Linked DNA regions of Homo sapiens: region 1 is linked to region 2. A link means that fine-mapping ties the variant in region 2 to the expression of a gene that starts in the linked region. Tissue or cell type: whole blood. Region 2 holds a variant in brackets; the other region holds the start of a gene. All regions are shown on one strand. Distances are from middle to middle.

Evidence for each region.
Region 1: UBE3C starts here. The variant in region 2 is fine-mapped to the expression of UBE3C in whole blood (TOPMed, PIP above 0.99).

Annotation. Positions count from the first base shown.
Region 1 is chr7:157,133,803-157,144,856 of GRCh38, forward strand. It overlaps UBE3C (ubiquitin protein ligase E3C), which reads left to right and starts at 5,124. Exons shown (of 23, transcript NM_014671.3): 1 at 5,124-5,536. The coding sequence starts at 5,471. RefSeq lists silencers at 4,616-4,965, 5,246-5,635, 5,686-5,755.
Region 2 is chr7:157,324,593-157,335,646 of GRCh38, forward strand. No RefSeq gene overlaps it. Among named protein-coding and RNA genes, the nearest start is that of DNAJB6, 6.9 kb to the right of the region's middle. RefSeq lists an enhancer at 9,511-9,590. The variant G/A (reference allele first, on the strand shown) is at 5,418.

The DNA of each region.
Region 1 (11,054 bases), 190 kb before region 2:
TTTTTTTTGAGACAGGGTCTGTCTCTGTCCCCCAGGCTGGTGTGGAGTGGTGCAATCTCTGCTTACTGCAATCTCTGCCTCCCAGGCTCAAGGGATGTTCCCACCTTAGCCTCCGAGTAGCTGGGACTATAGCCACCATGCCTGGCTAATTTTTGTATTTATTTTTTAAGAATGGGGTCTTGCTATGTGGCCCAGGCTGGTCTTGAATTCCTGAGCGGAAGCAATCCACCCACCTTGGCCTCCCAAAGTGCTGGGATTACAGGTGTGAGCCACCATGCCCAGCCTGAAAATCTTTTATAGTGAAAATTACTCTTGAAAATTATTAATCTTTGTAGAGTGATAATGAGATCATAATCTTGTACAAAAATTCCACTTTTTAAGGGTTACTGACAAAATGACGTCTGGAATTTGCTTCAAAGGGATGGAGGGGAGTCTAATCACATAAGATTGGCCCTGGGGTGGGCACTCACTGACGCTGGGCGATAGCTGAAGGAGACTGATTGATTATATGAGTCTCCCTGGCTTGTTGAGTTTGAAATTTTCTATAAAAAGGTACTTTTAAAATCCTTGAAAATCCTTCATTAGGAATCATGTTAAAGATGCTGAAATGATCCTGATAAGACAGATTTTCCTGTGGCATCACTGGTTCTCCAGTGGACACCAGGGGAAGAAGTGGCTCATGGAGCAGGGCCACCCAGCAGACGCACCGACCTCAGCACAGAGGAGCACCCACCCTGGGCTGACTGTGGAAACAGACCAGATGCCAGGCAGCGGTGTTGAGATGGGCAGAGGTGCAGTCAGGAGCACTTCTTCCCTACCCATGTGGGCCGGTCAGAACATTTGAAAGAGGCCCAGCAGATGTGGGACAGCACCCCCCAGTTACCAGCAACACTGAGGTTGGTGTGAGATTCACATGGGCATTCTTGCTCCTCCTCCTAGTCCAGACATTGGAAGGGTTCATTCGAAGCAGAATCTCAGACTTCAGGCTGGGCGCGGTGGCTCACGCCTGTAATCCCAGCACTTTGGGAGGCCAAGGCGGGCGGATCATCTGAGGTCAGGAGTCCAAGATCAGCCTGATCAACGTGGTGAAACCCCATCTCTACTAAAAACACAAAAATTAGCCGGGCATGGTAGCGCACCTATAATCCCAGCTACTCGGGATGCTGAGACAGGAGAATCGCTTGAACCCAGGAGGTGGAGAGGTGGAAGCTGCAGTGAGCCAAGATCACGCCATTGCACTCCAACCCGGGCAACAAGAGCAAGACTCTGTCTCAAAAAAAAAAAAAAAAAAAAAAGAATCTGAGACTTCAGAGCAGACTTACAGAGGTCACAAATATTGATATTACCAATTTTAAATCTTTGCTAACCTGACAGGTAAAAACAAAAGGTTATATCTTTTTTAATTGACAAAATTTGTAAGCTTTCAAAATGGTAAAATTGGGACATTTTATGATTAAAAATACATTCTATACTGTTGCAGTTCAAATATATGTATGAACTATGATAGTTCATACATATATACGAACTGTGACCTTGTTCACATATATATACACACACACATTTGTGTCTGGGTGTGGGTGCCTTAGTCTATTTGGGTTGCTATAACAAAATGCCTTGGCCTGGGTAATTTTTGGACAACAGAAATATATCTCTCACAGCTCTGGAATCTGGGAAGTCCAAGATCAAGGCACCCCACATTCTGCGTCTGAGGACTCTGCTTCATAGATGGTGCCTTCTTGCTGTGTCTCCCCATGGCAGGAGGGACAAACAGGCTGCCTTGGGCACTGATTTCCTTCATGGGGGTGGAGCCTCATGCTATAAGACTTCCTAATGGCCCCTCCTCTTAATACGATCACATTGGGGACTAAGTTTCAAACTATGATTTTGGGGAGACACCAACATTCAGACAACAGTAGAGTGTTTGTATATCTTTCTAACCATCTATCTGTCTATATTTAATTTATATGGCAGATTTTTTCAAACTGTGAGCTGAGACCCATTAGTGGATTGTGAAACGTATTTAGTGCTTTGCGTCTAGCATTAAAAAGAAGACGACGACAGTGGGTGCAGTGGCTCATGCCTGTAATCCCAGCACTTTGGGAGGCCGAGGCAGGAGGATCTCTTGAGCCCAGGAATCTGAGACCAGCCTGGGCAACATAATGAGACCCACCTCTACAAGAAGTGGGGGGGGGGGGAAAGCTGGGGGGTTGGGGGGAAAGCCAGGCTACTGGCACACACCTGGTCCAGCCATTTGGGACGCTGAACTGGGAGAATTGCCTGAGCACAGGAGGTTGAGGCTGCAGTTAGCTGTGATCGTACCACAGCACTCCAGCCTGGGCAATACAGTGAGACCCTGTCTCAAAAAAATAATAATAAAATAAAATAAAAAGACAGAATTTTTTTTAAAAAAAACAGTGCATTCCACATAGTAATGACAAATATTAGTTTTAAAATTTGGCTTTTCCCAATTAAAAAACGAGCAAAGGGCCTGAATTTTTCCAAATAGACATAAAAACGGCCAAGAGGTAATGAAAAGGTGCTCATCGTCAATAACCGTCAAGGAAATGCAAAACAAAACCACAATGAAATATCACCTCACAGTATTAGCATGGCTATTATCCAAAAGACAAGTGTTGGTGAGGGTGTGGGGAAATAGAAGCCTTTGCCCATCGTTGGAGGTACAGCCATTATGGCAAACAGTATGGAGTTTCCTCAAAAAAAACAAAACTGGAACTACCACATGACTCAGCGATCCCTCTGCTGGTTATATATCTACAGGAAATGAAATTGTTTCTTCTGGAGCTCCTCTCAGTTCATTGCAACATTATTCATAACAGCAAGATACAGAAGGAATTCCTGTCATTGGCTACATGTGTGAACCTGGAGGACATGATGCCAAGTTAAATAAGCGAGACAGAGAGAAAGATACTGATGAGCTCACTTATACGTGGAATCCAACAGTCAAATCCTATCTAGAAACAGAGAGTAGAGTGGTGCTTCCTGGGGCTGGGAAAAATGGGGAGAGATATGTAAAAGGAAACACACTCGCAGTTATGTAGCATAAATATGCCCACAGATCTAATGTTCACAGGAGGACTGTTTATTATTATTGTTATTAATTTTTATTTTTATTTATTTATTTTGAGACGGAGTCTCCCTCTGTTCCCCAGGCTGGAGTGCAGTGGCGCGAGTGGCGCGATCTCGGCTCACTGCAAGCTCCGCCTCCCGGGTTCACGCCATTCTCCTGCCTCAGCCTCCCAAGTAGCTGGGACTACAGGCGCCTGCCACTATGCCTGGCTAATTTTTTTGGTATTTTTAGTAGAGACGGGGTTTCACTGTGTTAGCCAGGATGGTCTCGATCTCCTGACCTCGTGATCTGCCCGCCTCGGCCTCCCAAAGTGCTGGGATTACAGGCGTGAGCCACCGCGCCCGGCCTGTTTATTTTTATTTTTTGAGACAGAGTCTCACTCTGTCACCCAGGCTGGAGTACAGTGGCACGATCTCAGCTCATTGCAACCTCCGCCTCGCAGACACAAGCGAGTCTCTTGTCTCAGCCTCCCAAGCAGCTAGAAGTTTAAGAACTTTAAGTGGGGGACCACCTATACATAAACATGCCACCATGCTCAGCTAATTTTTGTACTTTTAGTAGAGACGGGGTTTCCCCATGTTGGCGAGGCTGGTCTCAAACTCCTGACCTGAGGTGATCCACCCACCTTAGCCTCCCAAAGTGCTGGGATTACAGGCGGCGCCAGGACTGTATTTCTTTTTTTTTTTTTTTTTTTGAGACGGAGTCTCTGTGTCGCCCAGGCCGGAGTGCAATAACACGATCTCAGCTCACTGCAACCTCTGCCTCCTGGGTTCAAGCAATTCTCCTGCCTTAGCCTCCAGAGTAGCTTGGACTACAGGCGTGCACCACCACACCGGCCTAAGTTTTGTATTTTATTAGAGATGGGGTTTCACCATGTTGGCCAGGCTGGTCTCGAACTTTTCACTTCAGGTGATCCGCCCGCCTTGGCCTCCCAGAGTGCTGGGATTACCGGCGTGAGCGACCGTGCTCGGCCGCAGGACGACTGTAGATGATATCGTATTGTGTGTTGAAATTTTGCTAAGAGAGTAGATTTTATGTACTCTTACCACACACACACAAAGAGGGTAGTCATTTCACAATGTCTCTATGAAATCATCATGTTGCACACCTTGTATACAACCAAAAATCAATTTTTAGAAATTGGTTTCAATCGTGTATGATATATATGTATATGCACATGTATATGAGATATTATGTATACGTATGTGTGGATATAAGACACATGTTTATGTATAGGTGGTCCCCAACTTAAAATGGCTCAACTTACAATTTTTTGACTTTGTGATGGGTTTATTGTAGCATTAAATACATTTTCAACTTACAATATTTTCATCTTACGATGGGTTTATCAGGACAAAGCCCCATGGTAAGTCCAGGAGCAAATATTTTTGCATACACAGGTATGTGTACATGATACATATTTATATGTATTGATGCTGTATCTATAGATGCATATGTGTGCTATGTATGAGGCAAATCTGCGCATGTCTGTGTACATGGTAAATATTTACGTCCGTCTGTGCGTGTCATAGACATAGAACAGGTGGGATGTAAACAGACGGGCTGGGCCTAGCTGCTCCTTTCCCGCCTCACTCGAGTCTGGCACCAGATTGGCCGCTCCCAGCCCGCTCCGGGTGCCGGCCCCTGCACCCCACCCTGCACCCCGCACCCTGCCCTGCACCCCATCCCGGCCCGTGCCTCGCACTCCACCTTTCCCGCACCCTGCCCCGCACCCAACACCTCCCGCGCCCCTCGCCGCGCTCCCCCAGCACGCACCAGGCCCCGCCCACTCCGCCGCGTGCCCAGCCCGCGTCACCGCCGTCCTCCCCAGGCTCCAGCGCGCCTTGCGGGGCCGCGCACGCTAGCGGAACCGCCGGGAAGAGCGCCGTGCCGTCAATGGCGGAGGCGCGCACGTCTGCAGGGCCGCGCACGTCTGCAGGGCCGCGCACGTCTGCAGGGCCGCGCACGTCTGCAGGGCCGCGCACGTCTGCAGGGCCGCGCACGTCTGCAGGGCCGCGCACGTCTGCAGGGCCGCGCACGCACTGACGGCTGACCGCCATCTTCCCTCCCGAGGCGGCAGTTCCAGGTGCAAGCGCCGGGTTTGCTGCCCGCTGGGCGCCCCTGCAGCGGCCCGAGCTGTGGCCGGCGTGGATGAGGGGCAGGCGAGGCAGGGCCGCCCCTCCAGTATTGCCGCCCCTCCCGCCCCAGGGCAGGGCTGGGAGGGTACAGCCCGGGGGCGGGCTCGGGTCGCCTCCCGGCCGCCGCGTCCTCGCTGCCCCGGGCCGGGCGGGCGGGCGCCGAGAGCCTCCCAGCCCGCCCCGTGCCCCGCCCGCCCGGCTGCTTCCGCGGCGGCGCTGCCCGCACATGGGCTAGGCTGCCAGGATGTTCAGCTTCGAAGGCGACTTCAAGACGCGGCCCAAGGTGTCCCTTGGCGGCGCGAGCAGGAAGGTGAGGGCCGGGCTGGCGGGGCGCCCTCGGCTCGGGGCCTGCGCGGCCGGGGCTCGGGGCTGGGACTCGGGGCTGGACTCGGGGCTGGACTCGGGGCCGAGACTTGGGGCTGGATTCGGGGCCTCCCTGGCGGGGACTCGGGGCTTCCTCGCCGGATCTCGGGGCCGCTCCGGCCGGGACTCGGGGTTGGACTCGGAGCCGAGACTTGGGGCCAGGACTCTGGCTGGGGCTTAGGACTGGACTCGGGGCCTCCCTGGCTGGAACTCGAGGCCGCGCCCGTGGGGGCCTTGCCTGTCCACTGCGCTTCGGGACCCGGGCGCGCTGGCCGTGGCTCCCTTCCATGCAGGAGGCCGGTGAACCCTGGCACGCTTTGTGCCACCCAAGGTGAACTTACCCTTTCTGGGTGTTTCCTTTCAGAAATGCGCTTTCCATGCTCGCTCCCGCATGGCATCAGGGAGTGGCTGCTTTTCGAATGCCACCTGAAGGGCGTTTTCGGTTGTAGAAGGTGAACGGCACGCATTTGCTGATGTCGATAATCTCTAAAGTAGAGGCAGAACGTCTCATGAATAGCCACGTGTTTGAATCCAAGACGAGGGCAATTATTTGCCACCAGCCTCCTGGAAACTGTGGAGAGACTCCGGACTTACATCTGTTGTGATCGACATTAAGTTGTTCGCATGGTAATTGTTTAGGATAAGGGTAGGCAAACCATGACGCCTCTGTTCTAGTCTAGAATTTCTAGCTGTCTGTCCCTGAAGACGGGCATCAGTTGGTTCACTGGAACCGCTAAGTCGTTGAACACTGTGTGGTCTTGTTCCCGCCCCTCCCTTCCCACCCCTTCCCATCATTTCTGAAATGTTCTTTAAAATGCTTCACCTAGTTTTTCTTGTCTATCAGTATATTCTGTATATCACAACCACCAGGTAGGCACATAACGCAGAGTGGGTGCTGGCAGGCCAAGGAGGAACTGCTGTTATTAAGATTGTGCTGTGGGGCTGTGTTTGGTGGTTTCTGAGGTTAGAAGGGAACCTGGGTAAAGAGTTGGGAGAGAAGTGTGCTGATAATTTTTCAGCTTTGAGGTTCGTGTGATGGTGATTGCTTGGAAGTCACTTGTGCTCCAGAACTAAGTACTGTGCAGTTAAGGGTGGTCGTGGTAGCACTTAGGGTCTTCCACGTTAATGAAAATGTTTTATGAGATCAAAGGATTTCTACAGTTAGGAGAGACTTCAGAGAATCTCAGGGCCAAATCGCCTTGCTTACAAGTTCGGAAGGTGAGCTGCAGAACATTTGAAGGAGTGCCCATTCACACAGCAAGCTAGTGGCAGACCATCTGAGACTCCATGCCATTTACACAGCGCCGCGCGGCCTCTGTTGCAGGCAGGAACACCCCACGGGCCACGGATGTTGGTCCCTTTTCACCAAGGAGTGCATCTCTGCTCTGAGGGAGTGAGATTTCTTAACTGTTGATCAGAATCTCAAGGGAAGATAGCACGAGCTGTGTAAAAGAATCACCCCTTTAAAAACAAAACTCTTTTTATTGAGGTATAACTTAAGATACAGTCAGGTTCACAAACACTAAAGAGATCCTTGTGCAAGTGAAATTGAGGAGGAAGGGCGAGAGGGAAGCTGGGTAGGGAAGGAAAAGGCGTCTCAGCTGGAGGCTAGCGTTAACCCCATCTCACCAGGAGCATGCTACAATTGGCCCTAATTGCGGCAGAGGGGTTGGTGGCTGCAGGCTGCTGCCCCTCCGGGATGAGGGTGGGAGTGTGGCACTGCTAACCCTGAGCCGAGGGCCATTCTTCTGGGAGAGAGTGGCAGTAAAGAGCCCTTAGTAGGAACTGGCAGCAGCTGGGGCATGGGTGCCCTGGCCTGGTTAAGGAATCTGGGTGGGGAGCCAGCTGTATGTACAGCTTGAAGGATTTTTGCATATGGACACTCTCCTGTAGATGGAACACCACTCACATCAAAGGAAGACCATCCCCAGCATTCCAGAGGCTCCCCTGCACTCTCACCCATTCATTACAGTCATATGTGACTTAAAGAGGGGGACGCTGTCACTAGTCCAGTTGGTTGTTGTGGGACCGTCCTAGAGTGCACTTAACAGAAACCTATAGCCAGTGTTGCCCACTGCACACCTAGCTGCTTGGTACAGCCCGTTGCCCCTATGCTACACACCTGGACAGCGTGTTTCTGTGCTGAATACTGTAGGCAGCTCTTCATGCAATGGTGAGTGTCTGTGCATCCAAACGTAGATACAGTAAAAATACAAATTATAATCTTATGGGACCACGGTGTATATGTGGTCTGTTGTCGACAGACTGAGAGGTCATTATGCCATGTATGTCTGTAGCCCCACAAAGGTGACTGTCCTTCTGACCTCCATTACTGTAGATGAGCGTTACCTGTTGAACTTCAGGGGCATGGAGCCACTCACCACTTGTCGTTTGTGCCCGGCTGCTTTGGCTTGGCTTCTGTCTGAGAGGTGGACTCCATCCGCCTCGGTGCACGGCATTGCCCTTTGTGTGAACGCACCGTGGCTGATTCTGTTTTCTTACAGACCTTTGCTGTGTGTGCCTTTTGGTGCACATAATACTCTTGTGCTGGGTCCTAGATGATACGCATGTTCAGCTGTTGTGCACACCGCTGCCACAGTTTCCCCGTGTCGCACGCCCACAGCATCTGAAGGTATCCAGGTTTCCACATCCTTGCCAACACTTGATATTGCAAGTCCTTTAATTTTAGTGAGGATGTAGTTTCTTTGTGGTTTTAATTTTGTTTCCTGACAACTAATTATGTTGAGCACCTACATATGCTTGTTTTCCTGAATTCTCTTTGACTGCCGCATAAGTCCCTTCCCTTGTTGGAAAAATGAAGTTATAGTGACCCTTTTCTCATGTCTTAAATTATTATTTGAAATCTTCCCTTTCTGGAGCTTAGTGGAAAATGGAGTGGTTACCACCTTTGAATAAGCTTTTTCTTTTTTCAAATTAAATACTTTTAGTATTTATTATTTGTATAGATCTGTGTACGACAAGTCTGACTTGAAGAAGTTGATAATCTTGTTGGGCAGATAAGACTTAAGCAATTAAAAATTAAATAACAATAGAGTAATTGCTACATTCTAAATTTCCCTTGGTCCTGATTCAGAAAAAGTAGAATTGTTTGGAGCTTAGTCCTGAAGGATGGGTGTAATTAGGATGGGTGGAAGACGAGAAGGCATTCCAGGTTCGTGGAGCGGGGTGTGTGGAGTACATGTAGATTGGATTACATTGATTCAAAGTCACTTTGGGGAGCTAAACATTGATTACACATGGACATAAAGATGGGATGATAGACACCAGGGACTACTAGAGGGGGAAAGAGAGGGACGGGGACAAGGGCTGGGAAGCTACCTGTTGGTAACTGTGCTCACTCCCCGGGTAATGGGATCATTCACACCCCAAACCTCCGCGTCCTGCAGTATATTCTTGTAACAAACGTGCATAGGTACCCCCTAACTCTAAAATAAAAGTTGAATTTTTTTTTTTTTTTTGAGATGGAGTTTCGCTCACGCTGGAGCGCAGTGTTGCCCAGGCTGGAGTGCAATGGTGCGATCTCAGCTCACCACAAACCTCCACCTCCCGGGTTCAAGCGATTCTCCTGCCTCAGCTTCCCGGGTAGCTGGGATTACAGGCCTGCACCACCACGTCTGGCTAATTTTGTATTTTTAGTAGAGATGGGGTTTCTCCATGTCGGTCGGGCGGGTCTCGAACTCCCGACCTCAGGTGATCCGCCTGCCTCAGCCTCCCAAAGTGCTGGGATTACAGGTATGAGCCACTGCGCTCAGCCTGAAATTTTTTTTTAAGTCACACTGATTTCTATCTTTAAATATTTCTGACATCGGGATACACACTGATAGCATGATGCAGTTTAATTGGGGGTATGTTTTTCTTGGTAGTGTATAGAAGAATATCACGGGGTCATCTGATTTCAAGTACAGAAATGGACTAAAACTAGCTTAGTAGGCAAAACAAAAAGAAACAAAAACAAGTTTATGAAAGGATAGGCGTGTCTGACAGAATAGAAAGGTCAGAAACACCCAGATAGCAGGTATCACCACCACAGGAGTTGCTTGTCTTTCTCCAGGAGCTGGGTGCACTCCCTTCTTCCTGTCTCCTTCATTCCTGGCTCTGCAGACTGGCTTTCTCCATTTCTCACACATGGTTTCCTAGCTTAAGCGTCAAGAAAGTTTGATCATAATTACCAGTTTTCAGGAGAGGAAAGTCTGATTGGCCTGGGTCATGTTTCCACCTGATAACCTCAGTCTGAGGAGGGCTTGGAGGCTTGGTTCAGATGGAACAGTCTAGGTGCACCTGAGGGCTGGGGTAGATTCTTCAAGAAGCGGGGAGTGGTCGTTGACTGAATGCCTGAGTTCCTGTGGGACAGGCACAGGAAGGAGTCTAGGCTAGAGATGCAGATTTGGGGGTTATCAACAGAATGGTGGCTTCGAACACAGGTCCTTAAGAGGACTTGGAGTTTGGGACAGGGTGGGACTCGTGAGGTACTGCAACATTTAATATGTGTGGGAGTTGGGGATACTTACAAAAGAGTCACACCTCCGGGAGTGGAGGAGAGTGGTGTCCAGGGAGTGAATCTCAGGGAGGGAGGAGTGACAGGCAATGCCAAGTGCTGCACAGACACAGTGAGTCCACTGACTGCGGAGCTGGGAAGAATTGGGTGATTTGAGCATATTCTGTAGGGTAGTCAGAGTTGGAAGTCAAGAGCATAGCACATTGGAGAGTGAATGGGAAGTCACAAACAGGGCCGAACACAGGCCGGATGCTGTGGCGCACGCCTACAATCTGCCACACCGAAGACTGAGGCGGGAGGATCGCTGGATCCCGGGAGTTCAAGGCTGCAGTGAGCTGTGATCATGCCATAGCACTCCAGCCTAGGCGACACAGCATGACCCCATCTCTTAAAAAATAAGGCAGGGGCAAGGCAACAGTGTAGACCTTTTTTGAAAAGCACCGGAAGATTGGATGATAGAGGGAAATTCGGTGTCTCGGAAATAGTTTTGTCTGTTTTGGGAGACGGGGGAAACTTAAGTTTATAGACTGGGAAGGACGGGGGTTAAAAATGTGGGGAAGACAGGAGTGGCATAACTTTCAGAGTCTTCGAGAATACCCGAGAGGGGAGAACTGAGTGGGAGCAGGCAATGGGAAATATTTTGAGACTTAAAGAAGCTAGGGATGAATATGGATATAGAAAAGTTTGTAGACCGGAGGAACTGAAATTTTTTAAGTTTTTGTAGATCTGACAATAGTGGGAGTAGAATTAAGATCACTTTAATGTTTGTCCAGTGCTTTTTTTAAAAAAAAATAGACTTTATTTTTTAGAGCAGTTTCAGGTTTACAATCAAGCAGAGGGTAGGGTTCCCATATGCCTAGTCTCCCTCACCTCACTTTTCTCTATTACTAGCATCTGGCATTAATGTGGATCATCAGTTACAATTGATAAACCAATGTCGATGTGTTAT
Region 2 (11,054 bases):
ACAGGGGTGAGCCACTGTGCCCGGCCTAGAGATACTCTCTTTTTTTTTTTTTTTTGAGACAGAGTCTTGCTCTGTCGCCCAGGCTGGCGTGCAGTGGTGCGATCTCGGCTCACTGCAACCTCTGCCTCCCAGGTTCAAGCGATTCTCCTGCCTCAGCCTCCTGAGTAGCTGGGATTAGAGGTGTGCACCACTGTGCCTGGCTAATTTTTGTATTTTTAGTAGAGACGGGGTTTCACCATGTTGGTCAGGCTGGTCTTGAACTCCTGACCTCAGGTGATCCACCCGCCTCAGCCTCCCAAAGTGCTGGGATTACAGGAGTGAGCCACTGCACCCAGCCGAGATACTCTTAATATTCCAATGTCATCAAGCTGGAGATAAGAAAATTATGCCTAATTTTTTTTTTTTTTTTTTTTTTTTTTTAGATGGAGTCTCACTCTTGTCGCCCAGGCTGGACTGCGATGGCGCGATCTTGGCTCACTGCAACCTCCGCCTCCTGGGTTCAAGTGATTCTCCTGCTTCAGCCTCCCCAGTAGCTGGGATTACAGGCACCTGCCTCCGTGCTCGGCTAATTTTTGTATTTTTAGTAGAGATGGAGTTTCACCATGTTGGCCAGGCTAGTCTCGAACTCCTGACCGCAGGTGATCCACCCACCTTGGGCTCCCAAAGTGCTGGGATTACAGGTGTGAGCCACCGTGCCCAGCTGATTTTTCTTTTTAATTTCTTTTTTTCTTTTGACTGCTCCTTATAAAGCAGGGCTAACCCAAAGGCAGCACTCCCAGAGTAGCCATGCTTAAAAATTTAAAGAGGCAGCAACAACCACTTTTCTCAGTGAACTAATTCCTACAGTTGAGGTCTCAAGCACAACCACACAGGGTTCTAACTAGGTGCTCTCAAGTACCAGGCAGGGTTTAACCCTGAGTTTCATTGTAATGTGTCCATGGTATTGCATGATGTCTAGATTTGATGTCCTTGCATTATGAGAACATAAGAACAACATATAGTAACAGAAACACATGATGCATGGTGATTTGGAGGAGTCTCGCGGTTGGAGGAGAGCGGACAAACCGTAATGATGTGAAGTGAAGAAGCACTCATTAGAGAAGTGCCCAGCGAGCAGAAGCAAACGAAAAAGAAAGCAATCGCTGTGAGCATCAGAAACCAATGTGTATGTCCCCAGTGAAGGGCTACCAAACGGAAGTTCCTGGAGCGCCAGGGCTCTCTGGGAAGAAACCCGTACAGGGTCCTGTGTGGCAATGGTGGGTCAATGGAAGCAGAGATACCAATGAATGTTTTCACTGGTCATTGAATTTCTCTTACCCTGTTTGTTAGCATTCATTCAAAGAAAACGAGGTCAAGGCCAGGTGCGGTGGCTCACACCTGTAATCCCAGCACTTTGGGAGGCCAAGGTGGGCGGATCACGAGTTCAGGAGATCAAGACCATCTTGGCTAACACGGTGAAACCCTGTCTCTACTAAAAAAAAATACAAAAAAATTAGCTGGGCATGGTGGCGGGCACCTGTAGTCCCAGCTACTTGGGAGGCTGAGGCAGGAGAATGGCGTGAACCTGGGAGGTGGAGCTTGCAGTGAGCCGAGATCCAGCCGCTGCACTCCAGCCTGGGCAACAGAGCTAGACTCCGTCTCAAAAAAAAAAAAAAAAAAAAGAAAACGAGGTCAATTTGTCCCATGGCGTACAGTGCAGATCCCCTGACCCACAGTCTGGAACTTCAGCTATTCAATGTTAGGCTGACTGTCGCGTGGGGTGGGGTGCGGTTGGCTTGGGGAGAGACAGCCTTTCAGTTTGACTTTAAGATTTTCTTGTTGGGTACAGTGGCTCACGCCTGTAATCCCAACATTTTGGGAGGCTGAGGTGGGTGGATTCATTGAGCCCAGGAGTTCAACACCAGTTTAGGCAACAAAGTGAGACCATGTCTCTACAAAAAAAAACATAAAAAATTAGCCAGGCTTGTCCAGCTACTCAGGAGGCTGAGGTGGGAGGATTGCTTGAGCCTGGGAGGTCAAGGCTACAGTGAGCTGTGGTCGTGCCACTGCACTCCAGCCTGGGAAGAGTGAGACCTTGTCTCAAAAAAGGAAAAATTTTCTTTTTTTTTTTTTTGAAATGGAATCTCGTTCTGTCACCCAGGCTGTAGTGCAGTGGTACAATCTCGGCTCACTGCAAGCTCCACCTTCCGGGTTCACGCCAATCTCCTGCCTCAGCTTCCCAAGGAGGTGGGACTACAGGTGCTCGCCACCACACCCAGCTAATTTTTTGTATTTTTAGTAGAGATGGGGTCTCACTGTGTTAGCCAGGCTGGTCTCGATCTCCTGACCTCGTGATCCGCCCACCTCGGCCTCCCAAAGTGCTGGGATTACAGGGGTGAGCCACCACGCCCGGCCAGAAGATTTTCTTCTGTCTCCTTCCTTCTGGGTTGGGGAACGGGATGATGCCTATTTTTTGTTTTGTTTTTTTAGTTAGTTTTTCTTTTTTTTTTTGAGATGGAGTCTTGCTGTATCACCCAGGCTGGAGCGCAGTGGCGCAATCTCAGCTCATTGCAACCTCCGCCTTCCGTATTCAAGTGATTCTCCTGCCTCATCCTCCCAAGTAGTTGGGATTGCCATCACACCCAGCTAAGTTTTTTTTGTTTGTTTGATTTTTTTGAGACGGAGTCTCACTCTGTCGCCCAGGTTGGAGTACAGTGGTGCAGTGGTGCGACCTCGGCTCACTGCAACCTCTGCCTGCCGGGTTCAAGCAATTCCCCTGCCTCAGCCTCCCGAGTAGCTGGGATTATAGGTGCCTGCCACCATGCCCAGCTAATTTTTTTATTTTTAGTAGAGATGGGGTTTTACCATATTAGCCAGGATGGTCTTGATCTACTGACCTCGTGATCAGCCCGCCTCAGCCTCCCAAAGTGCTGGCATTACAGGTGTGAGCCACCTTGCCCGGCCCCAGCTAAGTTTTGTATTTTTAGTAGAGATGAGGTTTTGCCATGTTAACCAGGCTGGTCTTGAAATCCTGACCCCAGGTGATCCACCTGCCTCAGCCTCCCAAACTGCTGGGATTACAGGTGTGTGCCACTACGCCCAGCTAATTGCTGTATTTTTAGTAGAGAGAAGGTTTCGCCAGGTTGGCCAGGCTGAAGGAGTGATGCCTGTTCTGAAGTGGGCACAGTGACGATGGTGACAAGCCTTGCCACGCTTGGGGTTAGTGTTTCATTTTATCCAAGGTGGCCTCTTCAGTCATTGCTTCAGAGGCTCTGTAAGGCACCCGCTAGAACCTTGGGATTCATTATTTAAAGCTTATTTATTGGCTGGGTGCGGTGGCTCACGCCTGTAATCCCAGCAATTTGGGAGACCGAGGCGAGAGGATCACGAGGTCAGGAGATCAAGACCATCCTGGCTAACATGATGAAACCTTGTCTCTACTAAAAATACAAAAAATTAGCAGGGCGTGGTGGCACGCGCCTGTAGTCCCAGCTATTTGGGAGGCCTAGGCGGGAGAATCGCTTGAACCCAGAAGGCGGAGGTTGCAGTGAGCCAAGATCGCACCACTGCACTACAGCCTGGGCAACAGAGCAAGACTTGTCTCTAAATAAATAAATAAATAAATAAAATAAAGCTTATGTATTGAGCTGCTGCTGAGAACATCCCTGTAGCTGCAAAGAGCATGCGGATCAATTGCTCAGCAAGACAAACACTAAATCCCCAAACCATTTTTGGATATTTTTGTCATTTAAATGAGCCTAGTGGTGATGTGACTGCCATGATACCAGTCAGCCATAAAGGGATCAATGAAAAGCAATTGGGGCTGGGCACGTGGTTCACACCTGTAATCCCAGCACTTTGGGAGGCCGAGGGGGGTTGATCACTTGAGGTGAGGAGTTCAAGACCAGCCTGGCCACCATGGCAAAACCCTGTCTCTACTAAAAATACAAAATTGGCCCAGTGCGGTGGCGCATGCCTGTTATCCCAGATCCTCGGGAGGCTGAGGCATGAGAATCACTTGAACCTGGGAGGTAGAGGTTGCAGTGAGCCGAGATTGCACCACTGTACTCCAGCCTGGGTGACAGAGCAAGACTCTGTCTCAAAAAAATAAAATTAAAAAAAAAAGCAGCTGGATGTGGCGGCTCAGGCCTGTAATCCCAACACTTTGGAAGGCTGAATTGGGCAGATCACCTGAGGTCAGGAGTTTGGGACCAGCCTGGCCAATATGGTGAAACCCTGTCTCTACTAAAAATACAAAAAGTAGCTGGGCATGGTAGCACGTGCCTGTAGTCCCAGGTACTCCAGAGGCTGAGGCAGAGAAATCGCTTTAACCTGGGAGGCGGAGGTTGCAGTGAAGTGAGATTGTGCCACTGCACTCCAGCCTGGGTGACAGAGCGAGACTCTGCCTCAAAAAATAAAATAAAATAAGTAAAAAAGCAATTGGGATTAATAAGAACCTACAAATAATTTTTGGCATCAAACTCATTCTTTTGTTTCTAGATCCCGGTATGTAGTTTCTTTTCACAGCTATTCTAAAGTAATGCTGAATGATATATGGAGAATATAGAAGACTTTGCAGAGCTAGCACGAAATTAAATTGTGACTTGATCTGTGACTATCACCCATCATCAGTATTATTTTTTCTCTAATGGTGTGCAGGTTTCCTGAGCACACAGAGTCTCCTGTGGATTCCTCCTGGGACACAGACCCTGTGCTTGCTTATTGTCAGGAGCTCACACTTTTCCTGGAAGGAGGAATGGGGAGCTTAATGCCACAGAGAGTTTACATGGAACTGGTGTAGTGGATGTGTGGGAGCTGGACTTGCCCACATTAGCTGAATTTGTCGAAGTGGTGTTTCGTATCTAATTCCCCTACTCAAGTGAGACAAACCCATCTGCGAAGAAATCAGAGGATGCAAGGCTGAGAAGCAAACTCACGGCCCATCTCGTGTTTAGAGAAGCCTGACTTATCTTTGATCCAGTGTCCTGAGGCAGTGTGAGGCTGCTCACCAGCTGCCAATGAAAGCCCGGCCTGACCCACTTTCAAGGCCACGCAGACACAACAGTCTCTCCTGCCACAGTCGGGATCTGTCACCACCAGCGGCCAGCCTTCGGGGAGTGCTGACCCGTGCTGACCAGCCTGACCAGCATGGTGAAACCCTGCCTCTACTGAAAATACAAAAATGAGCCAGGCGTGGTGGTGCATGCTTGTAATCCCAGCTATTTGGGAGGCTGAGGTGGCAGTATTGCTTATACCCGCTGGAACCCCGGAGGTGGAGACGCAGCACCAGGTGCTTCTGTCTCGCCCTTTCTACTCCACATTTCCTCTTGGTCTATTTATTCTATATGTGAATACATTCCCATGCCACGAGGTTCAAACAAGAAGTATAAAGGACAGTGTGTGAAAATTCCTATTCCCGGCCAGGTGCGGTGGCTCAT[G/A]CCTGTAATCCCAGCACTTTGGGAGGCCGAGGAGGGCGGATCACGAGGTCAGGAGTTTGAGACCAGCCTGGCCAACATGGTGAAACTAAGGATACAAAAAAATTAGCCAGGCGTGGTAGCGCACGTGCCTGTAGTCCCAGCTACTCAAGAGGCTCATGCAGGAGAATCAGAATCACTTGAACCCGGGAGGCAGAGGATGCAGTGAGCTGAGATCGTGCCACTGCACTCCAGCCTGGGTGACAGGGTGAGACTCTGTCTCAAAAAAAAAAAAAAAGAAAAAATTCCTCTTTCCTTCTCTGCTTCTCAGGACTTACCCCTAACAGTTTTCTGCTCTTTTGCCCATCCCCAACCCCTGCAACTTAAAAAAAAGTTTTGTTTGTTTCTTTCGTTTGTTTCTTTTGTTTGTTTGAGACAGAGTCTCACTGTCACCCAGGCTGGAGTGCAGTGGTGTCATCTCTGTCCACTGCACCCTCCACCCACCAGGTTCAAGCAATTTTCCTGCCTCAGCCTCCCGAGTAGCTGGGATTACAGGTGTGCGCTACCATGCCTGGCTAATTTTTGTATTTTTAGTAGAGACAGGGTTTCGCCACGTTGGCCAGGCTGGTCACGAACTCCTGACCTCAAATGATCCACCCACCTTGGCCTCCCAAAGTGCTGGGATTATAGGCATGAGCCACTGCACCCTGCCTAAAAACAATTTTTTTTTTTTTTGAGACAGTGTCACACTGTCACCCGGGCTGGAGTGCAATGGCGCAATCTCGGCTCACTGCAACCTCCGCTGCCCGGGTTCACAAGATTCTCCTGCTTCAGCCTCCCGAGTAGCTGGGATTACAGGTGCACACCACCACACCTGGCTAATTTTTTGTATTTTTAGTAGAGATGGGGTTTCACTATGTTGGCCAGACTGGTCTCAAACTCCTGACCTTGTGATCCGCCCACTTTGGCCTCCCAAATTGCTGGCATGAGTCACTGAACCTGCCAAAACAATTTTAAAGCTAAAGAAAAGTTAAAAGAATAGAATAGGCTGAGTGTGGTAGCTCATGCCTGTAATCCCAGCACTTTGGGAGGCTGAGGCAGGTGGATCACTTGAGGTCAGGAGTTTGAGAACAGCCTGACCAACATGGTTAAACCCCACCTCTACTGAAAATACAAAAATGAGCCGGGCTTGGTGGTGCATGCTTGTAATCCCAGCTATTTGGGAGGCTGAGGTGGCAGTATTGCTTATACCCACTTGAACCGTGGAGGCGGAGGTTGCAGTGAGCTAAGATCATGCCACTTCCCTCCAGCCTGGGCGATAGAGCAAGACTTCGTCTCAAAAAAAAAACGTGTGTGTATATATATACGTTTATGTCTATTAAACATATATATTTTGATATTTTTATTAAACATATATATTTTAAAAACATATTAAACATATATACCATTTTGATATTTTTTATTAAGCATATATATGTTTAACAGGCAATATATTCACATAGTTTAAAACATATTCAGTGAACATCATTTTACCCTCAGCCCCCTCTTCTCTGTATTTTCTGCCCCACTCCCCAATGTCTTAAGTGTAATTGCAGAGTTTCTTATACAAATGCATGTTCTTTTTCTTTCTCTCCTTGCTATACACACTGTTCTAATGTTTTAAACCTTGCCTTTTTTTCTTACTTAGCAATATATCTTGATGATGATAAGATAAAGTGATTTCTAAGAATATATGTGAATAATTCTGTAATACAGTGAAAGTTCCTTACTCCTGGCCTCAAGTCATCCTCCCACCTCAGTTTTCCAAAGTGCTGGGATTATAGGCATGAGAAAGTTCCTGTTTAGTGTGTTTGAATAATCAGGGATTAAGCCAATATTTGTCTTTTTTAAAGCTAACATTTCTAAAATGAGCAGTGGGTAATTTATTTTGATGGCAGGAAACGTAACAAGTAAAGCACTTATATATAGGACTCTTCAAAGGTAATCAAATTTTAGGTATTCTTTGACAGTTTTGATTTACATACTTTCCTCTGAGGGTTTGAGCACAGGGATTTCATTAGAGAAACATTAAATAAGTATGTGTGTGAGATACCACAGTTCTCATACACTGCCCTGTTTATTTCTGATACCAGTATAGTAGCTATCCGTAGCTATCCTTCTTCCTATTTTACAGATAGGGAAACCGAGGCTTGTTGATGTGGGTAAAGTCAGTGCGTCATCAGCCCTAAAGTTTTATTGGGCATCAGGGGATGTGGGCACCACAGGGAACCATGCCTCGCACCCCTGTGGCCACTCAGCCTCCAGTCTGGCCCCAGTCAGCACTGGGTCCTCTTCCCTCTGCCCTGCAGCCTCTGTGCTTGCTGGCCCATGAAGCTTCTCGGTCCACTTTTGGCCTTGAACATTTCAGCTGCCCTCAACCCCCGGGGCTCCCTGCAAGCCATTACCCCAAATCCATCCACATTCTCCACGCTCCTCCTTTCTTTCTTTTATTTTTTGAGACGGAGTTTCACTCCTGTTGCCCAGGCTGGAGTGCAATGGCACGATATCATCTCACCGTGACCTCCACCTCCTAGGTTCAAGTGATCCTCCTGCCTCGGCCTCCCGAGTAGCTGGGATTACAGGTATGCGCCACCACGCCCGGCTACTTTTTGTATTTTTAGTAGAGACCAGGTTTCACCATGTTGACCAGGCTGGTCTTGAACTCCTGACCTCAGGGGATCTGCCCACCTCGGCCTCCCAAAGTGCTGGGATTATAGGCGTGAGCCACCGCACTCGGTCTCCAAAGACTTTTCACTCCTACTTAAATCTTTTCTGGGATAAATCCTTGTCATTGAAAGACCTCGTTGTTTCAAAAGAGTTAATTAAATATTACCATTTAATCTCCAAGGTGTTTATACCTGTCCTCCCTAACTGCTATGTGAAGTCCATCAGGATGGGGACCTTGTTTTGTACTGGTTGCTTTTCTTCATGATAAAATTTATTGTATTGACATGCTTCTTAAAAATTATGTATGTATTTGTTTAGAGACAGAGTCTTGCTCTGGCACCCAGGCTGCAGTGCCATGACATGATCACTGTTCACTGCAGCCTCGACCTCCTAGTCTCAAGTGCTCAAGTGGTCCTCTTACTCAGCCTCTTGAGTAGCTGGGACTATAGGTGTGTGCCACCATGCCCAGAAAATTTTCTTTTTTCTTTTTTTTTCCTGAGACAGAGTCTTGCTTTGTCACCCAGGCTAGAGTGCAGAAGCACGATCTCTGCTCACTGCAACCTCTGCCTCCCGGGTTCAAGCAATTCTCCTGCCTCAGCCTCCTGTGTAGCTGGGAATATAGGCATGTGCCACGACACCGGGCTAATTTTTTGTACTTTTAGTAGACATGGGGTTTCGCCATGTTGGCCAGGCTGGTCTCGAACTCCTGACCTTGTAATCTGCCCACCTCAGCCTCCCAAAGAGCTGGGATTATAGGCGTGAGCCACTGTGCCTGGTCATAATTTTCTATGTATTTATTTTTGAGACAGGGTCTGTGTTGCCTAGACTGGAGTACAGTGGTGCTCTACTGAAGCCTGGACCTCCCTGGGCTGAGGTGATTCTCCCACCTCAGCCGCCTGAGTGGTTGGGACTATAGGTGTGTGCCACCGCACTTGGCTAATTTTGCTATATTTTGTACAGATGGGGTTTCACCAAGTTGCCCAGGCTGCTGTCGAACTCTTGAGCTCAAGCAATCTTCTCGCCTCGGCCTCCCAAAGTGCCAGAAAAAAATAATTTATTTTTGGTAGAAATGGGGTCTTGCGGTGTTACCTAGGCTGGTCTGGAATTCCTAGGTTCAAGCAATCCTCCTGCCTCAGCTTCCCAAAGTGCTGGGATTACAGGTGTGCACCACTGTGACCAGCCTGATACGCGTTTTAATGTGTGTGTGTGTGTGTATATATATATACACACACACACATACACACACATATATTTTCTTTTTCGAAGGGGGAAAAGCTATTTGTGGCTAGCCTACCACTTACAATGTAAAATTCATGTCTGTGCTGCTTACATTTCAAGATGAGCTCACAATCACTGTAGGGACGTATTGACATGTAAAATGTCCCATGATAGTACTGTCTGTCCACACTGAGATGGAACTAAACCTCCATCAATCTGCAAGCAGATAGGTTACATGTGACAGTGCCAAGCTGTGCACATATCTGAAATTCCAGTCTTTGCTGAGATTATTTTAGGTTTTATTATGAGATGCCCATACTAACACAAACTATTATTTCTTCCTTTTGAACAGTCATTTATATAACCAGTAAAAAAAGAGAATAGAGGCTGGGCTTGGTGGCTCATGCCTGTAATCCCAGCACTTTGGGAGGCTGAGGTGGGTGGATCACCTAAGGTCAGGAGTTTGAGACCAGCCTGGCCAACATTGTGAAACCGCATCTCAACTAAAAATACAAAAAATTAGGCATGCATGGTTGCTCATGCCTGTAATTCCAGCTACTCAGGAAGCTGAGACAAGAGAATCACTTAAACCTGGGAGGTGGAGGTTGCAGTGACCCTAGATTGTGCCACTGCACTCCAGCCTGGAGGACAGACAGAGAGACTCAGTCTCAAATAAGAATAGAGAATCCAGTCAGATTTTCCTTTGCTAACTGATCATTTGCTAGAAATGACATGCAGTAATACAATTAAAGTTTAAGAAACACAAAAAATGAGCCCAGCACAGCGGCTCATGCTGGTAATCCCAGCACTTTGGGAGGCTGAGGCAGGAGGACTGCTTGAGCCCAGGAGGTTAAGGCTGCAGTGAGCCATGATTGAACCACTGCACTCCAGCCTGGGTGACAGAGCAAGACCCTGTCTCAAAAAAAAAAAAAAAAAAAAAAAAAAAAGGGCAGTATTTCATTTTGAAGTATAACAATTACAGCCATTAACCAAGTGTTCCAGTTGTCTAAAATGAGGCAGGTGTAGACGGAAAATTTTCCCTGTACTCTCTGAAGGTTTCACAACTGAGTCTCTGAACTAAGCTGACAATAGACAGATTCGTAAGAGAAAAAGTATACAAATCTATAACATGTACTAGGGCATCCCAGAATCCAGTGAGATCTGGAAGCTTATACAGCCCCTTCATAGAAGAGAGGGGAGGCAGATGCAGGCAGCTCAGGGGAGAGAAAATGATTTTTTGCCTTCAGAATAGGTGGTGGCCTGTGGCAAAATCTGTCTGGGTGTGCAGCTGACGTCCCTTGAAGCTCTTCTCCCGTGATCCTGGCTCATTCTTCCCTGGATGAGACTTCCAGGGAGGGGGTCAAGACAATTGAGTCCCTTTGGGATGATCTGTCTTTATGTAAATAATGGGGGATTCACAGAATGCCCCTCCCTGCATTGGCAGGTCCCCATGTGCCCTCAGTTTGAGGGCATACTAATGTGGTAATCAGTGAACTAGTTAGTAATCAGTATCCTAATATGGCATAATTCAGGGTGGCATTTCTCCAACTCTTTCATTACTAACGAGCTATTTTAAACCAAAAGTGATTCAAGTGTTAAAGTGCCTTTTACTTGAATATCTCCCAGGCTTAAACGATCACGAATTCATAAGCGTTGTTAGTTCAGAAGGTGGCTGAGCAGGCCCCCGGAATTCAGTGTCAGCATGCCACAGGATCTGAAGTTCAGGAAAGGTGTAAC